Linked DNA regions of Homo sapiens: region 2 is linked to region 1. Evidence: fine-mapped expression QTL. A gene starts in region 1. The other region holds a variant in brackets. All regions are shown on one strand. Distances are between the middles of the regions. Region 1 holds the start of SEC31A (SEC31 homolog A, COPII component). Region 2 overlaps SEC31A (SEC31 homolog A, COPII component).

Region 1 (14,948 bases):
GGTGGTGCACGCCTGTAGTCCCAGCTACTCGGGAGGTTGAGGAGGAAGGATTGTTTGAGCCCGGGAAGTTGAGGCTGCAGTGAGCCGTGATTGCGCCACTGCAATCCAGCCTGGGCGACAGAGTGAGACCATGACTCAAAAAAAAAAAAGAGAAAAATAAAAATGTTAGCTCTGTATAGTAATACTATAAATGATGTATAACATCTTTTTTTTGTATGACTATGGGTAAACATATTTCCTTTTCTGTCATCTCTTCTGTCTAGTCATGTATTATTTGACCATTTTTCTTTTCTATTCTTTTTTTTTTTTTTTTGGAGATGGAGTTTCGTTCTGTCACCCAGGCTGGAGCACAGTGGGGCGATCTCGGCTCACTGCAACGTCTGCCTCCGGGTTCAAGCGATTCTGGTGTCTCAGCCTCCCAAGTAACTGGGATTACAGGCACACACCACCACATCAGGCTAATTTTTTTGTATTTTTAGTAGAGACGGGGTTTCACCATGTTGGCCAGGCTGGCCTCGAACTCCTGACCTCAGGTGATCCACCTTCCTCAGCCTCCCAAAGTGCTGGGATTACAGGGGTGAGCCACTGCGCCCGGCCATCATTCGACAATTTTTCTATTAAGTTGATAGACTATCTTTTGACTTTGCTTTTTTCAAAAAAAAAATTTCTTTTCACCTTTCATAGGATTTTGATTAAAAATAAAAAAAGCTATATGCTTTATCTTTTAGAGTTTTACGTTCCTAGAAAAGTTGAGCCACAAAGTACAAAAAATTGCTACACATTTCCCAACCACATAACCTTTCTCACCACCAACATCGCACATCATAAAGGTCTATTTGTTTCGATCCATAAACTAACATGAACACATCATTATCACTGAAACTCCACAATTTATATGAGGGCTCACTCTAGGTGTTGTATATTCTATGGGTTTTGACAAATGTATAACAACATGTATCTGTCATTATAGTATCACACAGAGTAGTTCCCTTGTCCTAAAATCCCCTATGCCTATAATTCCTCCTTTCCTTTCAATAGAGCCTATATAGTGAATTTTTGTGAATTGTTCTTGGGACCTAGAAAGAAGGGGTGCTCTCTGTTTTCAGGGCCTAGAGCTCAATATATATTAACTAAGTCCTCTTTATTGATTTGTTTAGATCTCCTATATCCTTACTTTTTTGTCCACTTGATCTGCCTTGGACCGAAACAGTGAATTAAGTCTCTTACTGCTAATATATTTATGTCAATTTCTCATGGTATCTCCTGAAACTTTTGCTTTATGAAAATTACTTTGTTATTTAATAGTTATTTGGTGCATATCCATAATGTTCAAATTCACTGTCAAATATACACTTTAGCTTTATGAATATCCTTCTTTGTCTCAAATAATGACTTTTGGTCTGAATTCCACCTCTTGTTTGCCTTTACATGTATACTTTTGCCCTTCAGAACTACTTTGTCATCATTACAAACAAAATAACAAACAAAAAACCAACAGATTTTACTGGTGATCCAATTTGAAAATCTTTTCACAGTAGGTTAGCTAAGGACATTTAAAATGTATTGACATGACAGACATGGTTGGTCTTAGTTTTACCATATTTTACTTTGGTTTAATATCTTTGGGTAATAATTTTTAAAAAGTCTTTCATTGTCTGTTTTCTTTTTTGTGCAATTACCATTTTTCTGATAATTAGGATGATGTATATTTTCATTATAATATGTGTTTCTGATTCTATCTTTTTAACTGTAATTTTAAATATTTTACTTAATACCATTAATCCTCTATTTCTTTACACAGAAACTATTAACTCCCTACTATGAGCACTTATGAAATTAGCTTGTATAATCTTACTGCCCATCCACACAACATGGTTATAGTCAATAGTATTATCTTTCTCAGTGTTTACCTTTGAACTCCTTATACTTCTACTAACTGATCTGTCAGCTTTAAATGATGTCCTTTGACTCATAGCCATTACAGATGTGGCAATTCACAAACTTATTCTACCTCCAATTTCTTTCCTCTTCTCTTTTTATTAGTTGTATAATCAATCCCTTACATTATTGGACATTTAACATTTACATTTTATTCTTTCTTCCTCATTCTCACTTTTGTTCCAGTCTCAGTCCTGCAGTTAAAATGCATACTCAATGCTCTCCAAGAGTATTTTTGCCAGTTTCCTTACTCAGCTCCAGAGTTTATCCTCTAACATTTTCCTTAAGATTGCCTTAAACATATGCTCCGAGTCTTGTACCTGCAAATTGTTTATATTTGAAGGAGATTTTATAGAGGAAAAAATTAAGACACAGAAAGTTAGACAATCTGTACATGCTAGCAAGGGGGCAAGGGGCAGAGCCAAGATTGGAACTTGCAAGTTTAGCTCCAGAGTTCTTTCTACTTCCAACAAGTTCAGGTATTCAATTTTTATATCATAGAGGAAATATTAACATTTAGAAGAAACAATAACAAAGCAACCAGCATGCATGATGAAACTGAAGAAATGCATTTTAGAAATTGTGTTAGGTTAGAGCAAAGTGAGATTAGGAGGCAGGATGTATCACATGGTTAAAAGCATGGTCTCTGGAGTTAATCCTCAATTTAACTACTGGCTCTGTTACTTATTAGCTATGATACTTTGGACACATTATTTAACCTCCCTGAGCCCCAGTTTCTACATTCGTAAAATAGGGAAAAGAGTGACAACCTCATGGGATGCTGTGAGGTTCCAATGAGATCATACGTTTTATAATAGGGAGCCAAAAAAAGTGCTCAGCACATGGGTTAGTGCTTTTGATAGGTTTGCTATTTTTAAAGATTACCACTATCATGAGATTAAACAAGAAAACTTCAGGGTTATTTGGGGGGAAAAATTCCAACTTTCTAAGATATAAAAAAGGCATTTATTTTCTTACATGAATCTCCTCTTCTTCCTCTTTGCCAACTGTCTCACCTGATCTTTAATAATAAATTCAAGTTCCAGCTCCTCCATGAAAACTGCCCTGATGATTCAATCCACATTGATCTAAATACTCCCCGACAAGTTTGTACTTGTCAATACTATGATTTAAGCATTTTATAATAACGTCATTATATTTTAATAAACATTTTGTAACATTCTACTAGCACATATTGTTTACATATTTTCCAATTACCTTTTTTTAACCAGTTGCCTTATGTGCTATCTTATCTCACCAACTAGACAAATAACGTCTTTTTTCAAAACTTTTACCCCTTTTTAGACTCAAAATTGCTTAGCACAGAAGGAGATATACAGAAAGTTTTGATTTATTTTAAATGTTTATATTTAGGGGAAAACAAGTAGACTAATGAGCTAGAGTGACCAGTTTCAGATAAAACATTTACTTTTAAATTCTTAACTCTTTAAAGGATCATTTACTTTTTAAAAAAGGAGAAAGTATGGTTAAGGGGGAAAAGGTTATAAGATGCCTTCAGAATAATTTCTAAAAGTGAAATCAAAATAGCTGTATTATTAAAAAAATGGAATACAATTATAGTATTTCTAAGACCTAAGTACAAGGACTACCTAATTCATTAATGCTTGGTTAATGTGTAACATTGACTGAAAAAGAAAGAGACACATTTATAAGAACATAAAATAGTTAAATGTGAATTCAAAGCATTTACTAAAGTTTATTTCTTAGCCTTAGTACTCAATGTTCTAAGAAAACATTGAGAAAAGAAAAGAAAAGAAAAGAAAAAAGAAAGGAAAAGAAAATTGTGTGGGCTTGTTCATACATGCCATCTCCAAGACAGTATCTATAGCACGGCAATTAAGAGCATGGGGTCTAGGGCAGACACCCTCAGTTTAAATTCCAGCTTCACTATGTCCACCTCTGACTTTAATCATGTCGCTTTATCCATGTATGTCCTGGCTCCTCTCTCATTAAAATAAGGAGAACAGTATCTATACTACAGGGTTGTTGTGAGAAATAAGTGGTATTACTCAGAGTGGTTAGAACAGTGCCTGGCATATATAAACAAATGCTCATAAATGACAGTTATTACAAACATCACTACTTAAAACGTCTACCACCACGAAACTTCAAAAATACATCTATTAGGCCGGGCGCGGTGGCTCACGCCTGTAATCCCAGCACTTTGGGAGGTCGAGGCGGGCGGATCACGAGGTCAGGAGATCGAGACCACGGTGAAACCCCGTCTCTACTAAAAATACAAAAAATTAGCCGGGCGCAGTGGCGGGCGCCTGTAGTCCCAGCTACTCGGGAGGCTGAGGCAGGAGAATGGCGTGAACCCGGGAGGCAGAGCTTGCAGTAAGCTGAGATCATGCGACTGCACTCCAGCCTGGGTGACAGAGCAAGACTCTGTCTCAAAACAAACAAACAAACAAACAAACAACAACAAAAAAAACATCTATTAGCCAGGCGCAGTGGCTCATGCCTGTAATCCCAGCACTTTGGGAGGCCGAGGTGGGCAGATCACTTGAGGCCGGAAGTTCGGGACCAGCCTGGCCAACATGGCGAAACCCCGTCTCCACTAAAAAATACAAAAACTAGCCGGGCGTGGTGGTGTGTACCTGTAATCCCAGCTACTCAGGAGGCCGAGGCAGAAGAATCGCTTGAACCCGGGAGGCAGAGGTTGCAGTAAGCCTGGGAGACAGAGCGAGACTCCGTCTCAAAAAAAAAAAAAAAAAAAAAAACACACAAAAAACATATATATATATACACACAGACACGGCCAGGCGCAGTGGCTCACACCTGTAATCCCAGCACTTTGGAAGGCCGAGGCGGGCGGATCACGAGGTCAAGACATCCAGATCATCCTGGCCAACCTGGTGAAACCCTGTCTCTACTAAAAATACAAAAATTAGCTGCGCGTGATGGCGCGGCCAGTAGTCCCCGCTACTCGGGAGACTGAGGGAGGAGAATCGCTTGAACCCAGGTGACGGAGTTTGCAGTGAGCCGAGATCGCGCCAATGTACTCCAGCCTGGGTGACAGAGCGAGGCTCTGCCTCAGAAAAAAATAAAAAAAAAAAAAAATTTCTTGAGGAAAATTTATATTCTAGACTAGAACTCTTTATTTTTCATGCAACTTTCTCTCAATAATTGCATTCAATTAGGTGGAAACTTTTTTATTTCTGCTCATTTTCAAAGTGTAAATTTTGTGAAGCAATACTAAAACCCACCAGCACTGTTCTTTGAAAAATACCAACCTTGCAATGCTATATACAGAGCTGATCCATAACTCAGAAAGCAAGTAAAAAGTTAAAGAGGTAATAGAATTGGAACTTGGATTCCCAAACCAGGTATACAATCCCTAGTTGGCACTGCTTTCAGTAAAAATCCATTTTCTGCAGGCAAAATATCTCAATATGGATAGAAACAATTGTTTAGAGGATTTATTTAGTATTTTCAATGTTCTAGGTTCATTTCACTCAACCCAAACCAAATCAAAGGAGAAAGCAACTGTGCACTGGTTACTGAACTAATTGGTGTCATACTAATCTTCAGTATAATAAAACTTTTTGAGCTGAAATTAACCTAATGACATTCCTAACAACAATGTAATCAATGTAAATCAATCTAGTAATATCCCCTTACAGGAGTTTTTAACTTGTAAACTTCATAATATTATGTATATAGAAAATCCTACATGTCACTTGAAAGCAGGAGCTTGAGTCCAGCCTGGGGAACGCAGTGAGACCCCCATCTCTATAAAAAATAAGATTAGTTGGGCGTGCGCCACGTGCATATTCCTAGCTACTTCTGAGGCTGAGGCGGGAGGATCTCTTGAGCCCAAAAGTTCAAGGTTATAGTGAGCTATGACTGCACCACTGCACTCCAATCTGGGCAACAAAGAGGGACCCTGTCTCAAAAAAAAAAAAAAAGTAAAAGAAAAAAAAAGAAAATCCTACATGTGTGTATATGTGCATTCTTCCAATGCTTTCATTAGATTCCCGTAAGACAGTGAAATCCCCCCAAAATTTTGAATCATTGCTCTTCACAGTTTACAAATTTATTTCTATTCCCATGTTATTGGTTTCAATAAAGAATTTGCTTATATAAAATTAAGCAATATCATTATAAATCCACCTCAAATTTCAAATTTCACAAATAACCGCGGACGTATTTAAGATAAAATCACTACAAAACTACAAAAACACTACGAGTTATCCAAAAGTTCTTAAGAGTCTACAAACCTCTCCCTGAGCTGTTAATTAAGGGATAGTGAGAAACAAGGAGCACAGAAGAACCACTAAAAAAGGAGAGTAGGCTGGGCGTGGTGGCTTATGCCTGTAACCCCAGCACTTCGGGAGGCCAACTCGGGCGGATCACTTGAGGTCAGGAGTGCCAGACCAGCCTGACCAACAGCGTGAAACCCCGTCTCTACTAAAAATACAAAAATTAGACAGGTGTGGTGGTGGGCGCCTGTAATCCCAGCTACTCAGGAGGCTGAGACGGAGGTTGCAGTGAGCTGAGATCGCGCCACTGCACTCCAGCCTGGGTGACAGAGCGAGACTCCGTCTCAAAAAAAAAAAAAAAAAAAAAAAAGGAGAGTAAGCTTTTGCCAACTCTTGAATAAACGGAGGTACAGAAAACGCAGGACGCTGTAACAAGAACACACCCTTATCGATTAAATACAGTTATAACTGCCCACAAAGACAACCAAATTTCAGTTTTCTATAGTTAGAAAAAATAAGTTAGGAGAAAGGATTTGTCACAGACTATCAGATCACTGCAACTTCAAATAGCCCTACGTAAAATTAATTCCTTAAGCGCAAGAAAAAATTTATAATGCCCACAAGTCCAGGCAATATTTTGGTTTATTTTACAACAGCCCCGTAATTTAACAACTTATTAGCAAAAACATGTAACACTTAATGAGACTGCCCTCAAAGTACAGGCTGCGCCTGGCTACCACCGTCCTTAAAATAATCCTAGTTAAATGACAGTAGACGTCAGTTCAAACCTATGAACCTTTAAATCTGGCAATAGTTCAAGTACAAAAAAAAATCCTAACCAAAGCCAAAGTAATCCTGAGATTTTTTTTCCTCTCCTCACCCTCGGGGACCGCACCTCTTTGTGCACAAGGGTCTGAAAGTCTCCTAATCTCAAACTCCAGTTACCAGCCCGGCTACTACTCCCCGGCAAGACACTGTCGCCAGCCTCGGGTGGCTTTTGCTCAGCAGTGGAGACGTCGGCGAATGCGGACGGGCGCGATCACTGGAGTCCAGATGCCAGGCGTTGTTCCGCCGGGCCCGAAACCAAGACTAGGGGCGCGCCGTCACCAGAGACCGGGCCTCAGGCTGGTGCGGGGCAGCGGAGACCCAGGCTGCGGTCCCAGTTTTGGCCTGGGCTCTACCTCAAAGCTTAAGGACCGGCGAAGAGGACAAAAAGCAACGGGCGGACGCACCTGGCGAGGACCTTCGGCAGCCGGATCCTGCGTTAGTGCAGCGCTCGTCGGACTCTCCCAGCATTCGCCGCCGCCCCTCCTCCCCGGCCAGGGCCACCTCCACGTTCCGTTCCAACGTGGCAGCCGCAGCCGCAGCCACGCCCTGCGCCCAACACTTCCGGGAGCGACATCTTTCCCCGCCCACCCGACGCACAGCCCGCCACGGCACTTCCGGGACCGGCGGTAGCCTGGGAGGCGGGGTACGGCTCCGCTGGTTGGTGGCGCTCTGCGGTCATCGCGCCCCGGCGATCGTAGAAACCCTTTTCTGAGGGGCGGCGCGCAGAATGTGGATGGGGTAGCCAGGACTAGTGGGTAAAGGACTAGTGCAGAGGGTGTCCCCGTCTGGCCGAATAACCGCCGTGGCCCGCAGGAACGCCACGTAGCACTAGTCCTGTGAGGCGTCGGCAGCCCCTGGCGACACTGCCCGCGCCAAACCAGGTGGAAAATCGGGCTGCAAGGGCTTTATTGTAATTTGTGACTGAGTTCTTAAAATTACCCACTTGATTGCACATTCTGGCGTTTTGAGAACTTATACAAAGTGAAACAATCTGGGCATTCCCAAAGGCTATTGTGGACAAAGAGGTATAGATGGGGTGTTATATTAATTCCAATTAGTACCGTTTCATACTTGTTACTATCCCATGGTATTGAGACCCGGTAGCACTCACCTTCTGCCACTGTTTCTCCACAACCTCAAATCTAATTAGATGCGTTGCCTAAGTGTACTTTTAGTTTAGGGAGGAATTATTTTACAGCAAGGTGAAGCCAAAGGAAAATCACTTGCTAAATTACCAGAAATTGGATTCAACCCAGATCTCCTAACTTCTAGACAAGTTCTTTTCTCATTACATCTAGCATTCAAAGCCAACTCTTGCACTTTGGGTAGCTAAAGCAGAAGGATCCTGCCCCTTGAACAGCAGCAGTGTTAACATTCCCACAGTCAGCTACATCTTCTGTAACATTCCATCTGAAGCTTGCAGCTTCATAAGACAGCTTAACATCAATTCACGCCAACTTCTGAAATAATGAACCCAACTTTTACTGGTAGTAATATATTCTCTTTCAGTCTTCTAATTACCATTTTCTTTCAACGCAGTAACTAAGGTTATCACTTTGGCCTGAATGCTAGTCAAACTGATTGGGATTTGTTTTTGATTAGTCTTCAATTCAAACAAGTAAATGCTCCATTTCAACCGCAAGCAGCTTTCTGTTCCTAGTGCAATTAAAACTGAAAGACGTTGAAGCAACTTTACCTTTTTACATTTATCAGACTTTTTCAATAGGCTTGTATTACAGCTTCATGCAGGTCTGGGTCTCAACCTATCTTTGCTTTGCTGTCACCACTTTCAAATCTAATCACATCCAATTTCACTTCCAGCATTATCACTTTTCTTTGCTGCTCTGTCCTTTGTTGACCAATTACCTCTTTTAATTATCCATTTTTATAAATGGTCACAAGTTTAATCTCTGGGGTCAAGGAGGCAACAGTACTATGCACTTTGTGCTCTGCTATCTGTGCATGAACTAAACAGATGATCAGTAACAAATCAACAAACTTTGAAAGCAAAGTAATGTAACTGGCGACTGATCATGATGCACATCTTTTTTTTGGGGGGGGGGGCACAATGATTTGTGGACTAAAGAGCTAGCAGCAAAATTTATGCAAGTTTTCTCAGTACTGTGGTAATGGAATTATTAACCACATTGTTGGACTGGTTTTATTTAACTGTGGTCACTGGTATTTATGCATATTGGAACTGTGCAAAGACTGCCTGTATCTAAAAAAAGAAAAACTCTTTAGTTCACAAAACTAAATCCAATTTAGTTAACTACTATCCAAGCCTAATCCTGAATCAAATAAAAACTGAATTGCTCACTAGAAGAATGTTTGGAGAGAATTTAATGACAAATTTTTCAAATTAGGATTTGCATAGCACAAAGATATTCTAGGTTTTTTTAGAGACAGGTTTTTGCTGTGTTGCCCAGGCTGGAGTGTGGTGGCAATGATCACAGCGCGCTGCAGCTTCAACATCCAGGGCGCAAGTGATCCTCCCACCTCAGCCTCCCAAGTAGCTAGGACTACAGGCACACAACACCATGCCTGGTTAATTATTTTATTTTCTGTAGACACAGGGACTCATTTTGTTGCCCATACTGGTCTGGAACTCCTGGCCTCCAGGGATCCTTCTGCTTTAGCCACCCAAAGTGCAAGGATTATAGGCATGAGCCTCCATGCCCATTTGACATTCTTTTGGGAATTCAGATCCCTTCCCCTCATTTCAACAGTCTTGATGTCTGCAAAGAGTGAAGTTGTAGACAAAACAATCATCACAAGATACATGAATGTTTATGTAACTTTTTCCATAGCAGCCAGTACTATGCTTACACCTCAGTAAAACAGTAGCATCCATTTCATTGTTTTAGTTTGTTTCTGAATGCATTTATTTCACAAATTTGTTTAAGGGCTATAAACAAAATTTGTATCAACTTGTTTGTATATATTTACAAAACAGAAAATTAAGTCAGCATTAAGTCAACATGAGTAGTCACAGAATTTTTCCCCTTTATAAATGGTACATATTCAAGGAGACTTCAAAAAGTTTGTGGAAAAATGGTTAAAAGATAAAAAATATAAACTATATTTTTGAACATTAGCTCTATAGCATTCAAGACACTTTTGTAAGTGATGATACCAGCTATTTAGTCCATCCCTAAAGAACTGAGAGTTCTGGGAATTTATCTACATCAATGCAGTTTCTTTATACATTAACTTGAGAAAAATGTACTGCCCTGAAAAATTTTTTTAAGATTAGGAAACAAAAAGTCAGAAGGTGCCAAACCAGGACTGTAGGGTGGATGCCTAGTGATTTCCCATCAAAACTCTTGCAAAATGGCCTTGTTTGATGAGAGGGATGAGCAGGAACATTGTTGTGGTGAAGAACTCTCTGGTCTTTCTCGGGGATTTTTCTGCTGAAGCTTTGGCTAAGTTTCTCAAAACACTCCCATGATAAGCACGTTACCATTCTTTGGCCCTACAGAAAGTCAACAAGCAAAATGCCTTGAGCATTCAAAAGCTGTTGCCATGACCTTTGCTCTCAACCAGTCCTCTTGTGCTTTAACTGAACTACTTATCTTGGTAACCACTGCTTTGTGTTTTGTCTTCAGGATTGCGCTGGTAAAGCCATGTTTCATCTCCTGTTACAATTTTTCAATGAAAGGCTTCAAGATCCTGATCCCACTTATTTAAAATTTCCATTGAAAGCTCTATTCTTGTCTGTAGCTGATCTGGGTGCAATGGTTTTGGTACCTATCAGGTATAAAGTTTGCTGAACTTTTCCAGTCAAAATTGTGTAAGGTGAACCAACTGAGATGTCTATGGTGTTGGCTGTTGTTTCTGCTGTTAATTGTTGGTTTTCTTCAATTACGCCATGAACTAACTTTTTTCTCACAAACTGATGTGGATGATCTGCCACTGTGGGCTTCTTCTTCAACATTACCTTATGCCTTCTTAAAACGAGTTATCCATTTGTAAACTGATTTCTTTGGAGCACTGTCCCTATCAACTTTTCATAAAGCATCAATTAGTTCACCATTCTTCCACCCAAGTGTCAACATATATTTGATGTTTGTTCTTGCTTCAATTTTAGCAGAATTCGTGTTGTTCTGATAGAGCCTCTTTTCAAACTGATGTCTTATTCTTCTTAGTGCTTCAAACTAGATCCTGTTCAGACATGTTATAACAAGTTAGTAGGAGTTTATTTTGGTCCAAAAATTTTGAAATCCATGCATAGTTTTTTCATGATATGCATTTTCCATGCACTTTTTCAAGACCCCTCATATTTTCTTAAATTTGAGAAACAACTACAATAACAAGCCTAATTCATGACAGAACTAGTATTAGATTTAAGATTCCCAGTTTCCTATCACCTTCTTTTCTACTGTTCCTGAACAGATCCTTAAGTTATAGGCTAGTCATCCTTGGCATATCTAACAGTCATTTGTAAACCCTGGATCTTTAAGAATATCAGGTGCTGAAAAGATTATATCATTATTTCTAAGAAAAGATAACCAACAGCCAGGTGTGGTGGCTTATGACTATAATCCCAGCACTTTGGGAGGCTGAGGTTGGTGGCTGGAAGTTTGAGACCAGTCTGGCCAACATGGCAAAACATGGTCTCTACTTAATAAAAAAAATTAGCTGGGTGTGGTGGCATGCGCCTCTAATCCCAGCCACTTGGGAAGCTGGGCCACAATAACTATTTGAACCCAGGAGGCAGAGATTGCAGTGAGCAGAGATTGCGCCGCTGCACTCCAGCCTGGGCAACAGAGTGAGACTGTCAAAGTTAAAAGCTCCACCCCCTCCAATGCCTTTCCTGAATTGAATCTATTAATTAAAAAAATACTATTTTGAAATAATACTTATCTTTAAAAGCTGGAAGAGTAAGGAAAAGAAATTTTTAATTCAGAGTACAGTATCCACATTAGGCTGAAATAAATGTCAATTTTCTGCTCATACCTGACCTTTTCTGTGTTCTTTTATCAAAATAAATGTGTAAGTCCCATACCTTATTATATAAATCTTCAACTTCTTGATCAAATAAATATGACAAATGATGTTCTCTAAGAAAAACACCCTTCAATTTTATTCCTAAAACGAAAAACATTCAAAGGAACTCATTGTGCAGAAACACAATATATACAAGTCTCATCATTTTCTTTTTCTATTATGTCCTCATCCACATACATTAATCACAACAAATCATGATGTGAACAGCAGTGGAAAAAATTTAATCATTGGACATTTATTTCTTGAACTTCAGCTCTAGTTGTAAGATTCTCATTGCTTAGCTCTTTAAAACAAATGCATATATTTATCTAATGTAGAACAGTTAAGACCTCCAATTTTACTATAATTGGGAAAAAAACTCAGAACAAAGATTATGTCAAGTGTATCACTGTATTGACTTTGTTAACCTGCTATACATCTGACACAAGGGTAGGTGTTCAACAAGTGAAATACCAATCCTAAAAAGCCAGAAGTCTGTATCTGCTTTCATAGGGTTATTATGAGAAATAAATATTGTTTAACAGAACCAACTCTTTCTTTTTTGAGACAGAGTCTTGCTCTGTCACCCAGGCTGGAGTGCAGTGGCCAATCTTGGCCCACTGCAACCTCCACCTCCTGGGTTCAAGTGGTTCTCCTGCCTTGGCCTCCCAAGTAGCTGGGGTTACAGGTGCGTGCCACCATGCCCGGCTAATTTTTGTATTTTTAGTAGAGACGGAGTTTCGCCATGTTGGCCAGGCTGGTCTTGAACTCCTGAGCTCAGGTGATTCACCTGCCTTAGCCTTTCAAAGTGCTGGGATTACAGGTGCGAGCCACCATGCCTGGCCAAGAAAACCAACTCTTTCTATACACTATATATAAAAATCTTAGCAGCCTGGGCAACACGGCAAAACCCCTTCTCTACCAAAAATACAAAAAATTAGCCAGGTGTGGTGGCACACGCCTGCAGTTCCAGCTACTTAGAGAAGCTAATTGGAACTAGAGTATGGCTAGAAATTAGGTATTCCTACTCATATAATTTTCCTTGGGGTGATACTAACTTGGAAAGTTGAACTTTCTAAGAATTTTTCAAGGAATATTGTCCAATTTCTTCTGTGCAGTTATACAAATATTTGCTATAGGATGGAGTAAAGGTACAGATGTACAGCATCATTGAAGGAGTTTGACCTTTTTCCCCAAAGCTTGATTTTTATCCACTATGATGAATACATTTTACTAAATACTTGCTACTCTTTTCCTTCTGCTGCTTCCACCCCCACCTCCCACAGGCTTCTACTCCTCATCAGCAAAATATAGACCTTGTCAAGCAATCAGAATGTTCCTAATTGGCAGAACACTAATTCGTGCCTGAGATTTATAATCTTTTGAGTCTTCTTGTTTTCCTTTCATCACTGCTCAAAAGTTCTATTAGAAGAAAAAACACTCCCCCTTTTCCTTTAAGTCCTAGCACTGCTTCTGATATTTGGAAACCACTTGTCTAATAACAGAAGCATTACGTATAAAACAAAGCATAACTAGTTTTGGAGCGTATTAGGGTGTAGCTGCCCCTCCATATCAGGCTTGATGCTGAGAAGACACTTCCAAGTTAGCATGAGATTCTAGAAGTAGAAATAATTATGTAACAAATAATGATATAACAATAATTTCAAAACTCCATGGCTTTCTGAAACAAAAGACAGAACTCAAACAATGAAAAATTCGGCAACACAAAAGGGTAGGTCCTCAACAAGCAAGATACCAACCCTAGAAAGCAAGAAGTCTATACCTGCTTTCATAGAGTTATTATGAGAAATAAATATTGTTTAAGAAAACCAACTCTTTCTATATACTGTATATAAAAAGCTTAGCAGCCTGGGCAACATGGTAAAACCCTGTCTCTACCAAATATACAAAAAAAAATTAGCCAGGTGTAGTGGTACATGCATGTGGTCCCAGCTACTTAGGAAGCTGAGGTGGGAAGATTGCTTGGGCCTGGAAGACAGAGGTTGCAATAAGCTGAGATTGCGCCACTGCACTCCAGCCTGGGTGACAGAGTGAGACCCCATCTCAAAAAATAAAATAAAATGAAATGAAATTAAAAAAAGCTCAGCATAATTTGTGGCCCATAGTAACTGGCCAATAAATAAATATCTGTTATTATTCTTTCCAAGTGGACAATTAATGAGATTATATACCATAAAATAGGTAGATTTCATTAAAGCCTTAATAAATGTTTTTTACTTGGACAATCCTCCATTTCCAACTCACTGCTATAGTTCCAGGAATACTTAATACATTTAAAATAGAAAGATATACTACCTTCCCTGCATATTTTGAGTAATTATCTTCCAAGACCCATGTATCTTTTCTCAACATCTCTGAGAGTACAATTCCTGAAAAGAGATATTTTCTTTTAAAATTTTTTGTGCAATAGTCAATGCCTTTGCAAATAACACTATCTTTAATACAGCTTACATATCCTCATTTAAGTATTCAATAATCACAACGGTTCATTATGTGAACAGCAGTGAAAAGGTTTAATCACTGGATATGAAGTTACTAGAAGAAGCAATGATATAACCAAATGATCAGATTGAGAACTTCCATGTCAACAGTAAAATAATCACAACAACAAAAAAAGTATAGATAAGTTATAAACAAATGTAAAGATACAAAAATACAACTAAGAAAAAAAAATTCCATCTATAAAGGATTACTTATTTCCTATGCAGAAGTAAATATCTAGAGCAGTGACCCCTTGCGGCTATTGCCTTCATTTAAGTAAATCTGTTCTGATAAAAGCAGTTTTCAGAAATTCATCTGAAATTAACAATTAAAGGAATGTTGTCAGAATAATGTAGGAAGCACACTATTTCATCTTTAGGAAAGGCAAATAGTTGCAATCCAATTAAACAGGAAAGAAAACAGCCCTCATTTCAGATGATGAACTGGCAGCAGTACTTTCAACTC
Region 2 (15,514 bases), 22 kb before region 1:
ATTTACTTCAACTTTATTTTGCCATAAGTAGTCAAGAAAATTTTCCTTATTTTAATGTGAGATACACAAATATCACAAATTTGTCCAATATAATATGAAAAAAAAATAAGTACCTCTCCCAAGAGCTGCTCTTCAGCAGCAGGGCTCTCCTCCCCATCACTCTGTGCTACTTGGTCAGAGTCTTTAAGAGCCTTTGGTACACAAAACAATTACAGGGGAAGGTGAAGAATGTAGTATTAAAAGGCTATTAGTGAACCAGGAAGACAAAAGACCCAACCAACAACATTCAGAGCTAGTTTAATCATAAGAAGCAACAGTGAGTAAATTTATTTGAGAAATACCATTAGAGGAAAAGCAAAGAACTATTACTGCTAACACTTTCCCATTCTTTTTTTTTTTTTTTTTTTTTTTTTTGAGACCGAGTCTCACTCTGTCGCCCAGGCTGGAGTTCAGTGGCACGATCCCGGCTCACTGCAACCTCCGCCTCCCAGTTCAAGCAATTCTCCTGCCTTAGCCGCCCAAGTAGCTGGGATTACAGGCATGTGCCACCACGCCCAGCTAATTTTTGTATTTTTAGTAGAGACAGGGTTTCACCATGTTGGTCAGGCTGGTCTTGAACTCCTGACCTCAGGTGATCCACCTGCCTCGGCCTCCCAAAGTGCTGGGATTACAGGCATGAGCCAACACACCCGGCCCACTTTCCCATTCTTTCCTACCATTTTTTTTTTCCTGGCCAAAAAAAAAAAAAAAAATTTTATCTTAAGTATTTGAGTAGTCATTAATTCTGTTTTTCCTGCTTTACAAAATTCAAATATGTATGTCAAGAGAAAGGAATGCTCTACCAGCTAAGCTCATGTTATTTTAAAATGAGAATTATTAATTTATTAAAATATCTAGAATAAGCATTTATTTTTATACCATAAAGCATAAAACACAAATTTCTTAAATGATATTTCCTTCTTCGTTATGACCTAGCCAAAGTTTTAGAAGGTAGCTATTTTTAAAGGCCTTCTTACCACATTGGCTCCATCCACTTTGTTCAAGGCCAAAGCAATCTGAAATAAAAATAACAGCTCACCTACTACATGGAATTCTATTTCAGAGCATCCAGCAAATGTTCACCTCTTGCTTCTCACTGGCGAAAATCCACAAAAGTTCTTATAGGAATAGTATGTTTAAAAAAATTAAAAAAGCTATGCAGAACTGGTTCTCCATGGTGCTAGCTTCTTTCACATGGAAGTAATTAGAAATAATCCGACAATCATTCTATTTCCTCATTTTTTGCCATCAGGCATGCAAGTAAAACTTTCATATCAATCTCTTACAAGCCTAAAAAAGTTACAGCCTCAAGAAGTTTAGACTACTAATAAAGTTAAATATAAAACTCTAAAGGAGTGAGCAAAGACATAGCCACTAAGCAGTGGGGTTGTGATGTGATCTTAGTTAGTTCTGCCTGACATCAAAAGAGCACTAATCTTCAATATGCACTTAAAGTGCACAGTATACCTCTACCACACATGCAACAACCTGCAATGCTATAGAAAACTCTAGCCATTTCCAAAGAATGATGAAAGGCTAATACAAGTTACATAGTCATTTATCAATATGTATTCAAAACTCTGGCAACCACTGTGGGTAATGATGGAGAATAAGAAAAAGAAAAAGGGAAAAAACGCTGGCAACCAAACACAAATTATTATTAAATGTTTATTGGGTGATTTGAGATAATCTGTGTAGAACTTTATTTTTTAAAAGTATGATTCATAAAGAGCATGCCATCTAACTTTCCCAAAAGTTTACCTTCTTTCCTAGATCTTCTTTTCTGTATCCTAGAAGTTCAAGGTATTTTCCACGAGAATCATCCTCAAAGTTTACCTTTAAAAAAAAAGACATATTCTTAAAACAAAGACCTACATTTAAAGGCCGAATTTTTATAAGAATGAATCAAATTCCAAAGAGAATTATTAAAAATATCTGAAGTCTACATTCTAAAGATTCACTGTTTGAAGGAATCCAAAGAATAGTGGGTTTTTTTGTTTTTTATTTGGAGACCCAGCCTCAGGAGGTCCTGAGAACATGTGCCCAGAATTATTTTTTTAAATAAGTTATTTATTAATAGTAAATATACTAGTAATTAATTATCCTGGTTGAATAAAGCTTACTTTTGAACAGTAATTTCTGTAAATACAAACTTATGTCCAAAGGTTAAACTGATACAAAACTCAAACTATGTGGAATATTCTATGTCCTAAAATTCTTTCCCAAAATTATTACAAAATATAAATTCTTTAATTTTATACTTTAACCTAACTGTATTCAAGACTGCTTTACCTTTGAAAAACCAGTACCGTATAAAGAAACAGACATTCCAGTGGAGGCAAAATGACCAACCAGGAAATTCTATTTGTTATTCTAATCTAACTCCTCTTAAAGTAAAAGGAAAAATGCCTCCAACCTCTCTCCTCTATTCCTCTTCCTCTTTTTTCATTTTCCTTAACTAGATCTACTATAGATGTTAAATATTCTGTTTTCATTATAGTAAACTCTATGTACTCATCTTCAAAATAGGTGTGCTGACTATGTCGCTCTCCTCTAAACAGACCTATTATTATTTTTTTTTACTTATTAAAAATGTATTTCATATTACACTTTTCAAAGCAGAGAAGGAAAAACTCTGGACATAAGTTAGGTTGTATGCTCTTTATAAGGCTTCTTAATTTCATGATGAATTGCTGAAATCACACTTTTTCAATTGTTTCTTTAATAGGAGGACAGATTTAGAATATAAAGGAACAGTTAAATTTGCAGATAATGAAATAATATAGCTTTAAACAGCAACTTTACCTTCAAAAAGGACCACACATTTTTCTCAAATTCAGTCTGAGAAGCATCAATTTTTTTTTGGCAATAATTGATAAATCCTTGTGACTGCACAGCCTGCTGAAGTTGGTCTGATCGGCTGAGGAACTCCTTTTCTGTTACAACCTGACTAATGAACACATGGTGCTGCTGCTGCTGCTGCTCAGCTCCCTGATGAGAAGGCATTCTGACATTCTCAAACGTAACCAGTTTGCCTCCAAACTATAAAAGAGAGAATGAACAAACTCAGTGTTAACCCAAGGATATGGCCAAAAAAAGTGCTTATAAAGTGGCCTAAACAGATAATCTGGATGAAATTAGTTGATACAACCTCTCATGCGCCACAGTCTGACACCACTTCAATTTCTGTTCTAGATGAAATGTACTTTTTTGGTTTTTTGGTTTTTTTTTTTTTGAGACAGAGTTTCGCTCTTAGTCACCCAGGCTGGAGTGCAAAGGTGGGATCTTGGCTCACTACAACCTCTGCCTCCTGGGTTCACGTGATTCTCCTGCCTCAGCCTCCTGAGTAGCTGGGATTACAGGTGCCGGCCACCATGCCTGGCTAACTTTTGTATGTTTAGTAGACAGGGTTTCACCATGTTGGCCAGGCTGGTCTTGAACTCCTAACCTCAAGTGATCCACCCAGATAGAGAAGACCAGATAGGACGATGAGAAGATTAAGCAGATCCAAAGAACAGACTTACGAGTGACATAAAACATATTCAAAGGTCCATTTTAGGAAGATTAATCTTGGAATATGTAGTAGAGATTAGAGGGGGAAAAGACAAGCAACAAATATGAAATCAAGCTATTAGAAGTTTGGCATGAAAGAATTAGGCAAGGTATCAGCAATGTAAAAGGAAGAAACAAACAAAAAGTGCTAGAGAGGATGTGGAGAAACTAGAACCCTTGTGCACCACTAGTGAGAATGTAAAATGGTAAAACGGCTATAAAATGGTATGGAGGTTCTTCAAAAACTTAAAAATAGAACCATCCTATGATCCAGCAATCCCACTTCTGGGTATATGTCCCAAAAAACTGAAAGCAGGATCCCAAAATGATAATTACAAACCCATGTTCACCACAGCATTTATTCACAATAGCCAAAAGGTGGAAGCAACCAAAATGACCATCAAATGAATGGATAAAAAAAAATGTGGTATATATATATATATATATATATATATATATATATATATATATATATACAATGCAATATTATTTGGCCTCTAAAAAGAAGTAAATTCTGTCACACTACAACACAGATAAACCTTGAGGACATTAAGCTAAGTAAAATAAGCCAGCCACAAAAAGACAAGTACTGCATGATTCCATTTATATGAGTAATTTAAAGTAGAAAACTCCTAGCAACAAAGTAGAATGTGGTTACCAGGGATTCAAGGGAAACAGGAAATGGGGAGCTGTTGTTCAAGGGCACAGAGTTTCAGTTTTGCAAGATGAGAAAGTTCTAGAGATCTGTTGCACAACAACGTGTATATAGTTAACACTACTGTAGTATATATTTAAAAATGGTTGTAGTGTATATTTTAAAATGGTTAAGATAGTAAATTTTATATTATGCATTTTTTACAATTAAAATTTTATATTATGCATTTTTTACCATTAAAAAAAGCTGGCAATTAAAAAAGAAAGCTAAAAGGATGAAGAAGAGGGAGGACACTCCCTGCAAAAAGAAAAGAAAAAAAGAAGAAAAGAAAAGAAAAAGAAGGGAGGGAGGGAGGGAAAGAGAGACAGAGGGAGGGAAAGAGAGACAGAGAGAGAGAGAAGGAAGACAAATTTAAAAGGGAGGAGGGCCGGGTGCAGTGACTCATGCCTGTAATCCCAGCACTTTGGGAGGCCGAAGCGGGTGGATCACCTGAGGTCAGGAGTTCAAGACCAGGCCAGTCAACATGGTAAAACCCCATCTCTACTAAAAATACAAAAACCAGCCAGGTGTGGTGGCACGTGCTTGTAATCCCAGCTACCCAGGAGGCTGAGGCAGGAGAATCGCTTGAACCAAGGAGGCGGAGGTTGCAGTGAGCCAAGGTTGTGCCACTGCACTCCAGCCTGTACAACAGAGTGAGACTGTCTCAAAAAAACAAACAAACAAACAAAAAAATGGAGGAGGGGAGGAATATAAAGTGTTGGCTACACAACAACAATGTAAATGTACTTAATGCCATTGAACTGTATATTTAAAAATGAACAAAATGATCAATTTTATGTATATTTTACCATGATTTTTAAAAAAGGGAAAAAAAAGAGTAGGTTCCAATTTTTCAGAGAAACCATTTTGAATGATGAAATACCCACAAGTACATCTCAAATCCCAACTTAAACCCTGATTGCTTCCATCAGAGTGACTCTATAATAACACTTTGGTATAAAAAGTCCTTTGTGCCTATGGACCATAAAAACAAAATCCACCTACTGAAAAAGAAGCACCAACAGGCCTTCGAATCCACTTGGGCGGCTTCTTCAGAGGCAGCACTATACTATGCTGAGCAGTCTGCTGTGGAATTTGTAACGGAGGAAGGGGCTGTCCTGTGCCAAAGGGATCAAGATTCCCAAAAGATGATGAAAGCTAAAAAAGATAATAATAACATAAGCATCCGACCATACACAAAGTTTCATTTTTTTCCAGTCATATCCAAAAAAATTTTTGATCACAATTGTCCAATTAACCAGCATTGTTAATCAGTGAAGTCATTTCAAAATATTACACAACACATACTTTTTTCAGGCATTATAATAGAAAACTTTAACACTTCCTATTACCTTGTCAACTTGTTTCTGTCTTAAACCATCTGTGCTACCTCCCATGATAGAATAAACACTGATACGCCCATCAAACGAAGCAGCTGATAAGACAGCAGGATTTCGGGGACACCACTGAATATCGAAGCACCACTGTGTGTTGGTGGGAAGTTCATATAACACCTAGGCCAACAAAAAACAAACAACAAAACTCAGAAAATGGTATGGCCACTTTGTAACCAAAACACCTGAATTAATGTGGTCAACAAGTATAGTTAAATTGAATATTTTTTTGTAGAAAGTATCTTTAGCCAGGAAAAAGAATACTAAGATTTTTTAAAGTGCAAGAATGATCCATTACGATGACCTATTCTGATTAACAGGAATGCAGCTTAAAATTTCAATCAGATTTGAATAAACGCATTTTAAAAACTGAGGCTTTTCTGTGTTCAAAATAATGGATGCATTTGAAAGACCAGCACACTCTATTAGAGTCAACTTTTTTTTTTCTTTTTTGAGACAGGGTCTCGCTCTGTCGCCCAGGCTGGAGTGCAATGGCAGCAGCCTCAGCTCACTGCAACCTCCACCTCCTGGGCTCAAGCAACTATTCTGCCTCAGCCTCCCAAGCAGCTGGGATTACAGGCGCCCATCATCATGCCCGGCTAATTTTTGCATTTTTAATAGAGATGGCGTTTCACCACGTTGGCCAGGCTTGCCTTGAACTGCTGACCTCAAGTGATCCGCCCGCCTTGGCCTCCCAAAGTGCTGGGATTACAGGCGTGAGCCACCGCACCCGGCCTAGGGCCAACTTTTTAAACTCTAAAAGATTAGTGATGTCCTGTCCAATTGTTTTTGTCTGGTAAGACCCAAACAACAACCATATTTAGGTTACTTGAGGATCAAATTTTAAAATCAATCTTGAGAAGGAAGAATTCACTAAGAAATCTGACTTTTAATCACGAGAGAAAACATGTACTATACACAACCTTCCTATCACTGCAGAATCCTAACAGAATTCGGCATTAACAGCTTCCTTTAGAAAGAAAATGACAGAGAAAGAACTATAGAAAATGACCTACATGAGGCTGGGCATGGTGGTTCACGCCTATAATCCTAGCACTTTGGTAGGCTGAGGTGGGCAGAATGCTTGAGCCCAGGAGTTCAAGACCAGCATGGGGAACATGGCAAAACCCCATCTCTACAAAAAAATACAAAATATTGGCCAGGCACGGTGCTGCACGCCTGTAGTCCCTGTTAGCTGGGAGGCTGAGGTGGGAGGACTGATGGAGCCCAAGAGGTCAAGGTTTCAGTGACCCGTCATGGTGCCACTGCATTCCAGCTTGGGAGACACAGCAAGACCCTGACAAAAAAATAATTAATAGTACTAAAAAAAATAAATAAATAAATAGAAAATGGCTTATATGAAACCTTCACAATGTAATCCTTGTTGTGAACTCAAAGTTAGTATGGTGGTTAACTGCTACTCACAGAAGCAACATCTTAGGACTTTATGATAAGTCAAATGAACTTAACTCTGGCTTCATGTGACCTTCTTTTTCCTTTTTCTTTTTTTTATTTTTGAGACAGGGTCTCACACTGATGACTAGGCTGGAGTGCAGTGGCGCAATCACAGCTCATTGGAGTCTTGACCTCCTGGGCTCAAGCGATCCTCCTATGTCAGCCTCCCGAGTGGCTAGGACTACAGAACACGCCACCACACCCAGCTAATTTTTGTATTTGTTGTGGAGATGGGGTTTCACCAGCCTGCCTTGCCTCCCAAAGTGCTGAGATTACAGGTCTGAGCCACCACAAGTGGCCCACGTGACATTTAAAATGTTTCATTTTATTAAAAAATAGAATTAATTGAAAAGGTATTTAGCCTGCTCACGTCTTTGGTATTTATTTTGTTTGATAAGATGTGTGGTTTGATAAAACTTAGATGATTTATCTATCCTTTATTTGCATTTGAACAAATTCCAATTTTTATTTATTTATTTATTTTTTGAGATGGAATCTCACTCTGTCACCCAGGCTGGAGTGCAGTGGTGCGATCTGGGCTCACTGCAAGCTCCGCCTCCCAGGTTCATCCCATTCTCCTGCCTCAGCCTCCCTAGTAGCTGGGACTACAGGCGCCCGCCACCACGTCCAGCTAATTTTTTTGTATTTTTTTTTTTTTTCAGTAGAGACAGGGTTTCATCGTGTTAGCCAGGATGGTCTCGATCTCCTGACCTCGTGCTCTGCCCGCCTCAGCCTCCCAAAGTGCTGGGATTACAGGCCTGAGCCACTGCACCCGGCCAACAAAATCCAATTTTTTAGTTGTAGCATGTACTAAAAGTCTCTTCCTTCAAAGTCCAAGCACACACAACTAATCACAGGCAAAAATTCATCTAATTAAATTATATTACAGAGAAAATGATAACAGAATAGTAAGTTCCATGAATTTTGAATTTACTTGGCAAGGCACAGTGTAAAATTAAGATTTTTGTTATCTGTCCTACAAATGATATGCGGTAAAATTTATTAATTTTTTTTCTCTTGTCTCCCCTAATGTTAATGATTCTATATTGTTACATCCACAACTCTTAAACCAGAAACCAAATAACTAAAGGGCTTGTTTTAATTTTAACAATATAGATGAAAACTTATCGAAGACACTCTTTATTTTTATTAGCATTCCATCAAACTACATAAGCACTAGCAATCATCTACCTTCACATAAAAAAGGTAAAAATATAAAAGCTATAATTTATATTCTTGCTTTATCATTCAGAAGAGAGATTGGAAAACTGTATCTACTGATTTCCAGAAGTGAAAGAGGATCCTCAGGAACGGTAAAGCAGGCAAAAGATGCAAACCTTGAACAATCCTACATCGAAGATACTGATTCCCATAAACCACATGTGAAATAAATCAAAGTATTTCTGAGTCTAGGTAATAAACACATTATTGGAAATGAGGAGGGGATGGTTACTAGTTTAAAATATACTATTTGAATTACTGATTTTTCTGGTTAAAAAGCTGAGTTTAGATTATGTTCCTGATAAAATTGCTGCCAAATAAACACTGCACACACACGTCCACATACTCTTCACATAGTAATCCACTAAAGAATCCACACAGAAAATTTCTTATGTAGCCAGAAGTAACATACTATAAGGGCTACAAGGTTGAGACACATTTCCTGCCCATACCTCTCCTGTGTTTGGATTGGAGCAGAGAATCTTAGCATCTTTTCCACAGCTCAGTAACAATTCAGGATCTGCCATGCTCCAAGCAATTGCCAAAA[T/C]CCCCCTATAAAAAACATAAAGGAACAAGGAAATTTTTAATCTTGAGAAAACCAAATCTCAACTATTTCTGCCTAGGTTTTGTAGATTCACACATTGTTAACAGAAATACAATTAAATGCAAGAGTTTCAGCGCCGGGCGCATTGGCTCACACCTGTAATGCCAACTACTCAGGAGGCTGAGGTAGGAGAATCACTTGAACCTGGGAGGTGGAGGCTGCAGTGAGCTGAGATTGAGCCACTGCACTTCAGCCTGGGCAACAGAGTGAGTGAGACTCTATCTCAACATAAAATAAAAAAAGAAAAACAAAAAAAGAAATAAAAATAAAATAAATGCAATATTTTCAGAAGCAACTTAGTAACGTATATGCTATCTGATCATTACAAATACATGGATGTTCAATGTAGTGCAGTGTATGACAGCAAAAAAGTGAAAACAAATGCCCAACAGACTATTTCACAATAAATTACAGACCACCCTTCCATGAGAAAATATGTAGATAAAAATTATTCTATACACTTTGGGAGGCCAAGGCAGGAGGATTATTTGAGGCCACGAGTTCAAGACCAACCTGGGCAATATAACGACACTCTGTCTCTACCAAAAAATTTGAAAATCAGCCAGTTATGGTGGCGTGTGCCTGTAGTTCCAGGCATACTCATGAAGCTGAGGCAGGAGGATTACTTGAGCCCAGAGGCTCATGGCTGCAGTGAGCTATGGTGGCTCTATCCTGGGCAAATCAGCAAGACCCCATCTCAAAATATATACGTATCATTTTGTGGAAATCAACTTCTTACCATTATATGGTATTCATGATTAACGAAAAAAGTTATCTAACTATATGCACAAATTATCCTATTTGTATAAAAATTATATTGGGATTATACATGCATACACACACACACACACACACACACACAAGTAACGTAGGTACAGTAAAATGTTTTACCTATGGATGGGCATGAAATCTAACTGCAGTAAGTCGTTACTTAATTTAGGAACTGTGACTTTAAGCAAAACAATGGATAACAAAACCAATTTTACCATAGACTAACTGATAACTGACATAAACATTAAGTTCCTACGGTGGCCCATGCCTGTATTCCCAGCACTTTGGGAGGCAAAGGTGGGCAGATCACTTGAGGTCAGAAGTTTGAGACCAGCCTGGCCAACATGGTAAAACCCCATCTCTACTAAAACTATGAAAATTAGCTGGGCGTGGTGGCGCATGCATGTAATCCCAGCTATAAAATTTTTATAAAACTATAAAAATTTCCTGGCATGGTGGCTTGCGCCTGTAATCCCAGCTACTCAGGAGGCTGAGGCAGGAGAATCGTTTGAACCTGGGAGGCAGAGGTTGCAGTGAGCCAAGATCTTGCCACTGCACTCCAGCCTAAGTGACAGAGCAAAACTCCATCTAAAAAAAAAAGTTCCTGTGTCCTATGGTGTATTTCTGGTCACGAAAACATCACCGACATGTTCAGAAAATAAACAAATCAAGTTCTTTGTAACAGCAGCACGATACCTGGCATGGTTTTCCAGGACACGAAGTGGAGAGGAAGCAAATCGAAGATCCCACATCTGGATCACTGGTAACCGGTCATCCTCGGAGGCAAGGACCATCTGAGTAGCAACATCAGGATGCCATGCCAACCCAGAACAATGCATCTGAAGATAGTTAAGGTTCACATTTTATGAATCAAATTACTTTATGAAAAGCCAAACTACAACGAGAAATATACCTTTATTGAAACAAATAGTGAAAAACATCAGCTGTGGCTTATTTTATTTATGATCTATTTATTGTCAGCCAGGCTGGAGTGCAGTAGCGCCATCTCAGCTCACTGCAACCTCCACCTCCCCCAGGTTCAAGTGATCCTCCTGCCTCAGCCTCCTGAGTAGCTGGGATTACAGGCGCAAGCCACCATGCCAGCAAACTTTTGTATTTTTAGTAGATATGAGGTTTTACCATGTTGGCCAGGCTGGTCTTGAACTCCTGACCTCAAATGATCCACCCACCTCGGCCTCCTAAAGTGCTGGTATTACAGGCATGAGCCACCGCGCCTGGCCTTAGTTTATTTTAAACAACAAAACAAAAACAAATGTAAAACTACTAAATTTTATTGAACAGTCTTAAACAGTAGTCTTAAAAGTAAGATATTTGAATATTTTCTCAATTCATGCAGCTATTTGATACACACAAAACCATTCTGAGTCAGAATAACTGTATACCAAAAATGAGTTTTACTATCAAAACTATATAAGTTTAGAGAAAACATTTCATTGTATTTATTTATTTTTTTGAGATGGAGTCTCGCTCTGTCACCCAGGCTGGAGTGCAGTGTGGCACGATCTCAGCTCACTGCCACCTCCGCCTCCCAGGTTCAAGCGATTCTCCCGCTTCAGCTTCCCAATAGCTGGGAGTACAGGCACACACCACCATGCCTGGCTAATTTTTTGTATTTTAGTAGAGAAGGGGTTTCACCATGTTGCCCAGGATGGTCTTGAACTACTGAGCTCAGGCAATTCGCCCACCTCGGCCTCCCAAAGTGTTAGGATTGAGCTACTGCGCCCGGCCAGTAGAGAAAACATTTTATGCACATTTAAAATACTTTCAGAAAAACGAAAAACAAAAAACAGATAAAAGATTAACACATACAGGCTGGGCGTGGTGGCTCACTCCTGTAATCCCAGCACTTTGGGAGGCCAAGGCGGGTGGATCATGAGGTCAGGAGTTTGAGACCAGTCTGGCCAACATGGTAAAACCCATCTCTACTAAAAATACAAAAATTCGCCAGGTATGGTGGCGGACGCCTGTAATCCCAGCTACTTAGGAGGCTGAGGCAGGAGAATTGCCTGAACCCAGGAGGCGGAGGTTGCAGTGCCATGATTGCGCCCCTACACTCCAGACTGGGTGACAGAGTGAGAGTCCCTCTCAAAAAAAAAAAAACCCTTAAAAAAATTAACACACACACAAGACACAAAAAAACCCCATACTTTTCCTCTATTTTATCAGAAAAATCAAGGCAAAATATCTGAAGCAAAAACTACCATTTAAATTTTCATATGGAATAAATTAACATTATTAGGAACTATCTGCAAGTTCAAATTCTATTAAATATTCCACAAAATGACTAAAATGCTTCTGGTATGGTTTATTCCATTGAAACTTCTGTTTTAAAACTCCTGATTCACTTGAAAACAATACTCTGAAGAAGTGTTCTCCCAAATAGTTTTTTGTTGTTATTGTTGTTTTTAAACTACATATGTATGCCTGACTTTTGGCAAACTTATTTTAGAAAATGTCAAACTATCCAATGTACTCATAAACAAACAAACAAAAAAAGCTCCAAATTATATCTAAATTATTTTATGGCATCTAATGACATAAAAAAATAAAGATACCTAAAAGGTTCAGAATTTAATGTGCTCTATGGGTAAGTGCCGAAAATATATTAGCTCATTTTAGCAGTACCTAATCAGAGGAAGAGATGAGGCCAAGAAGTCAAATATTACAAGTTCACAGTGATGAAGCTTCCAGCAGGAAAAATTTTTACATTCTAAGAAAAGTTAAAGATGAATTAAAAAGTTGCTGCAATGGCCGGGCACAGAAGCTCATGCCTGTAATCCCAGCACTTTGGGAGGCCGAGGCAGGCAGATCACGAGGTCAGGAGTTTGAGACCAGCCAGACCAACATGGTGAAACCCCATCTCTACCAAAAATACAAAAATTAGCCGGGCTTGATGGTGCATGCCTGTAATCTCAGCTACTCGGAAGGCTGGGGCAGGAGAAGTGCTTGAACCCAGGAGGCAGAGGTTGCAGTGAGCCGAGATCACGCCACTGTACTCCAGCCTGGGCGACAAAGCGAGACTCCGTCTCAAGAAAAAAAAAAAAAAAGTTGCTGCAATGTTTTAAAACAGCTAGCAAAGCAAAACCACCAGTATATCATGGAATAAGTTCCTTGATTAACCAATCTCTCTTCATCATTAATAATATCCAACATATTTATTGGGAATTTTATGATTTTCCCTTAGAGGAAAAAAAACAAAACATTCCTTCTAACATGACTGATTAATAAAAAAACAGGATTTGACTTCACAGAAATTTGATTTGTTGTCAACTCTGACAAACAATATAGGAATACCTACAGCAGAAATACAACATGTTCATCACAAGTCAATCACATACTTACTCTGTTACTATGGTCACTGACTTTGATGATTGGCTCATTTTTTCTAAGATCCCATACAGTGGCCCGGCCACTGGGACTGGCTGATGCTAAAATATGCTGAACTTGTCTGTTCCATGCAATGCAGCTGATATCTTCTGGCGGCTACAAGGAAGAAACAGTTAATAAAAACTGCTTGTTTCTCTATTATAATCAAATTTAACTGTAAAATTGGATCCTTCATTTTGAAAAGTGTATTACTTAAAAATCTGATCCATTTATGCCACAAATTTGCTTTATAGTCCTACATCTCTACATTCTCAACACATAAAATTATATGACTTAAAATGCAGGTACATACCACTTCAAGTGTATTATCTTGTTTCATAATATCTCATTCAACAAGAATTTTATTGAATTTCTGCTATAAACCAAGTACTGTTTCTTTACTTTGCAACTGCTGCAAGGTAGATTATGGACCACAAAGTAGATGTTGGTGACTATGACAGAAAACTAGGCAGGGCAAAATTACAGCCTAGACCATTAGCAAAATACCTTTATAAATGGTAGTGCATATGCTGTCATTATGCTACCTCTCAGATTGCCAAAATGTTAGAGCCAGTTACAATGGCTACTCAAGTTGGATAGCCTATACAACATAAAGAAACTCAGGGAAGAACAGGAGAAGACTGTTGTTACCAAACTTAATAGAAATACACAAGCAAAGGGCTTGAGGTATTTATTTTAAACCTTGTCTTCCATGGTCTTGTCTAAGTGTGTTTTAAGAAGGTTGGTTGTTGCCAAAACACAGAGCAACTATCACACAAAGAACAAAAATAATTATACTATATCTAAGACAATTATTAAGGATTTTTGTTCATTTTGTTTACTACTGTATGCCTAGTACAATGACCAGTGTCTACCAGGTGGTAGGTACTAAATAAATATTTACTCTTGATGGACTCACTGATACTTTGAAGAAACATATTTATTAATTACTGAAGAAAAATCAGTAATATCTAAACAATGATTTTAAACATATATGTTTTGTGTGAGAAGCCTTAAAAGTGAAATAAGTAGGTTTAGGAGAACTACTTTTGGCTTTTTTGATTACAATGATCAAAATCAATATAAAAATACCTGTGTTTTGGCTCCTGGTGTCATTGGGGTTGCAAAATTATTTAGATCCCATATGTAGATTTCAGATTCATTAGCACCAGAAGCTACCAGATTAGTCTGCAAGAAGAAACCATAACTAAATAGCACTTATGAATAATTAAGAAAATTCAGAATAACTCAGTTCAGAGCTAGAAAGATATTAGATGTAGCATACACAATTTTTCTATTTAATTTGAAAAGTGAAAAACATATGCATGAATTTCTAAATTATGCATAATTCTTTCAAAATTTAAAGTTTTCTAGAAAAACATAAAATTCTACTTAACAAAGACAAAAGATGTCTACTGAGAACAAATTAATTTTAATGCAAGATATTATTTTAAAAATTATATGGATAAATTCTTTTTTTTTTTTTTTTTTTTGAGATGGAGTTTTGCTCTTGTTGCCCAGGCTGGAGTGCAATGGTGCAATCTCAGCTCACCACAACTTCCGCCTCCCGGGTCCAAGTGATTCTCCTGCCTCAGCCTCCCGAGTAGCTAGGATTACAGGCATGCACCACCACTCCCGGCTAATTCTGTATTTTTAGTAGAGACGGGGTTTCTCCATGTTGGTCAGGCTGGTCTCAAACTCCTGACCTCAGGTGATCCACCTGCCTCGGCCTCCCAAAGTGCTGGGATTACAGGCGTGAGCCACCAAACCTGGCTGGATAAATTCTTAATCAGTCATGCAACCATGTGAGGATTACTGTTTGTATCTTTGCATCTCTGGAAGGAGATTTAATTATAAGATTAAAAAGGTCATCAATTATTGCTTTCAGAAAAAGCTGAATCCTAAAACTGTGGCATCTTTCTCAGGATACCTCAAAGCCAGCTTCCAGAGCTGAATCAATACAGCACTAGTAAAATCTCTTGTCATAACTCTTCACATATTTCTAGTTCATATACACTCAATCTTATTCCAGGTGGCAATATTTCTAGGTTTTCTCTGGTACATACCTTAAGGGTCAAAAAGAACCTGAAATTGTAATATAAAGTACAGGAAGATAATGGGCTTCATATACTGACCTTCATCCACTACTATTTACTCTTACAAATTATTCTCTATCAGTTGGCATATAACTAAAAAAAGGGAGACATTCTATGGTAGTAGCTACCTATAACACAAAATACTTTATTAAAAATCATCAGCTGTTCAATACAATTAACAAAGGAGTTAGCTAAAGAGCAGATACCACAAACTATAGAAACGAAGGCTGGGCACAGTGGCTCATGCCTGTAGTCACAGCACTTTGGGAGGCTGAGGCAGACAGACCACTTGAGCCCAGGA

Evidence for each region. PIP is the estimated chance that this variant, and not a neighbour inherited with it, causes the effect.
Region 2: its variant is fine-mapped to the expression of SEC31A in whole blood (TOPMed, PIP above 0.99).

The regions. Positions count from the first base shown.
Region 1 is chr4:82,883,692-82,898,639 of GRCh38, forward strand. SEC31A (SEC31 homolog A, COPII component) reads right to left here and starts at 7,462. Exons shown (of 27, transcript NM_001077207.4): 1 at 7,397-7,462. It overlaps THAP9-AS1 (THAP9 antisense RNA 1), which reads right to left. Exons shown (of 4, transcript NR_034077.1): 3 at 12,001-12,083; 4 at 9,761-11,156. It overlaps SNORD143 (small nucleolar RNA, C/D box 143), which reads right to left and starts at 12,237; the gene lies at 12,162-12,237. It overlaps SNORD144 (small nucleolar RNA, C/D box 144), which reads right to left and starts at 14,534; the gene lies at 14,449-14,534.
Region 2 is chr4:82,861,518-82,877,031 of GRCh38, forward strand. SEC31A (SEC31 homolog A, COPII component) reads right to left here. Exons shown (of 27, transcript NM_001077207.4): 5 at 14,210-14,305; 6 at 13,094-13,234; 7 at 10,427-10,569; 8 at 8,808-8,907; 9 at 5,638-5,799; 10 at 5,291-5,443; 11 at 2,845-3,081; 12 at 1,801-1,875; 13 at 1,017-1,055; 14 at 114-191. Among named protein-coding and RNA genes, the nearest start is that of SEC31A, 22 kb to the right of the region's middle. The variant T/C (reference allele first, on the strand shown) is at 8,903.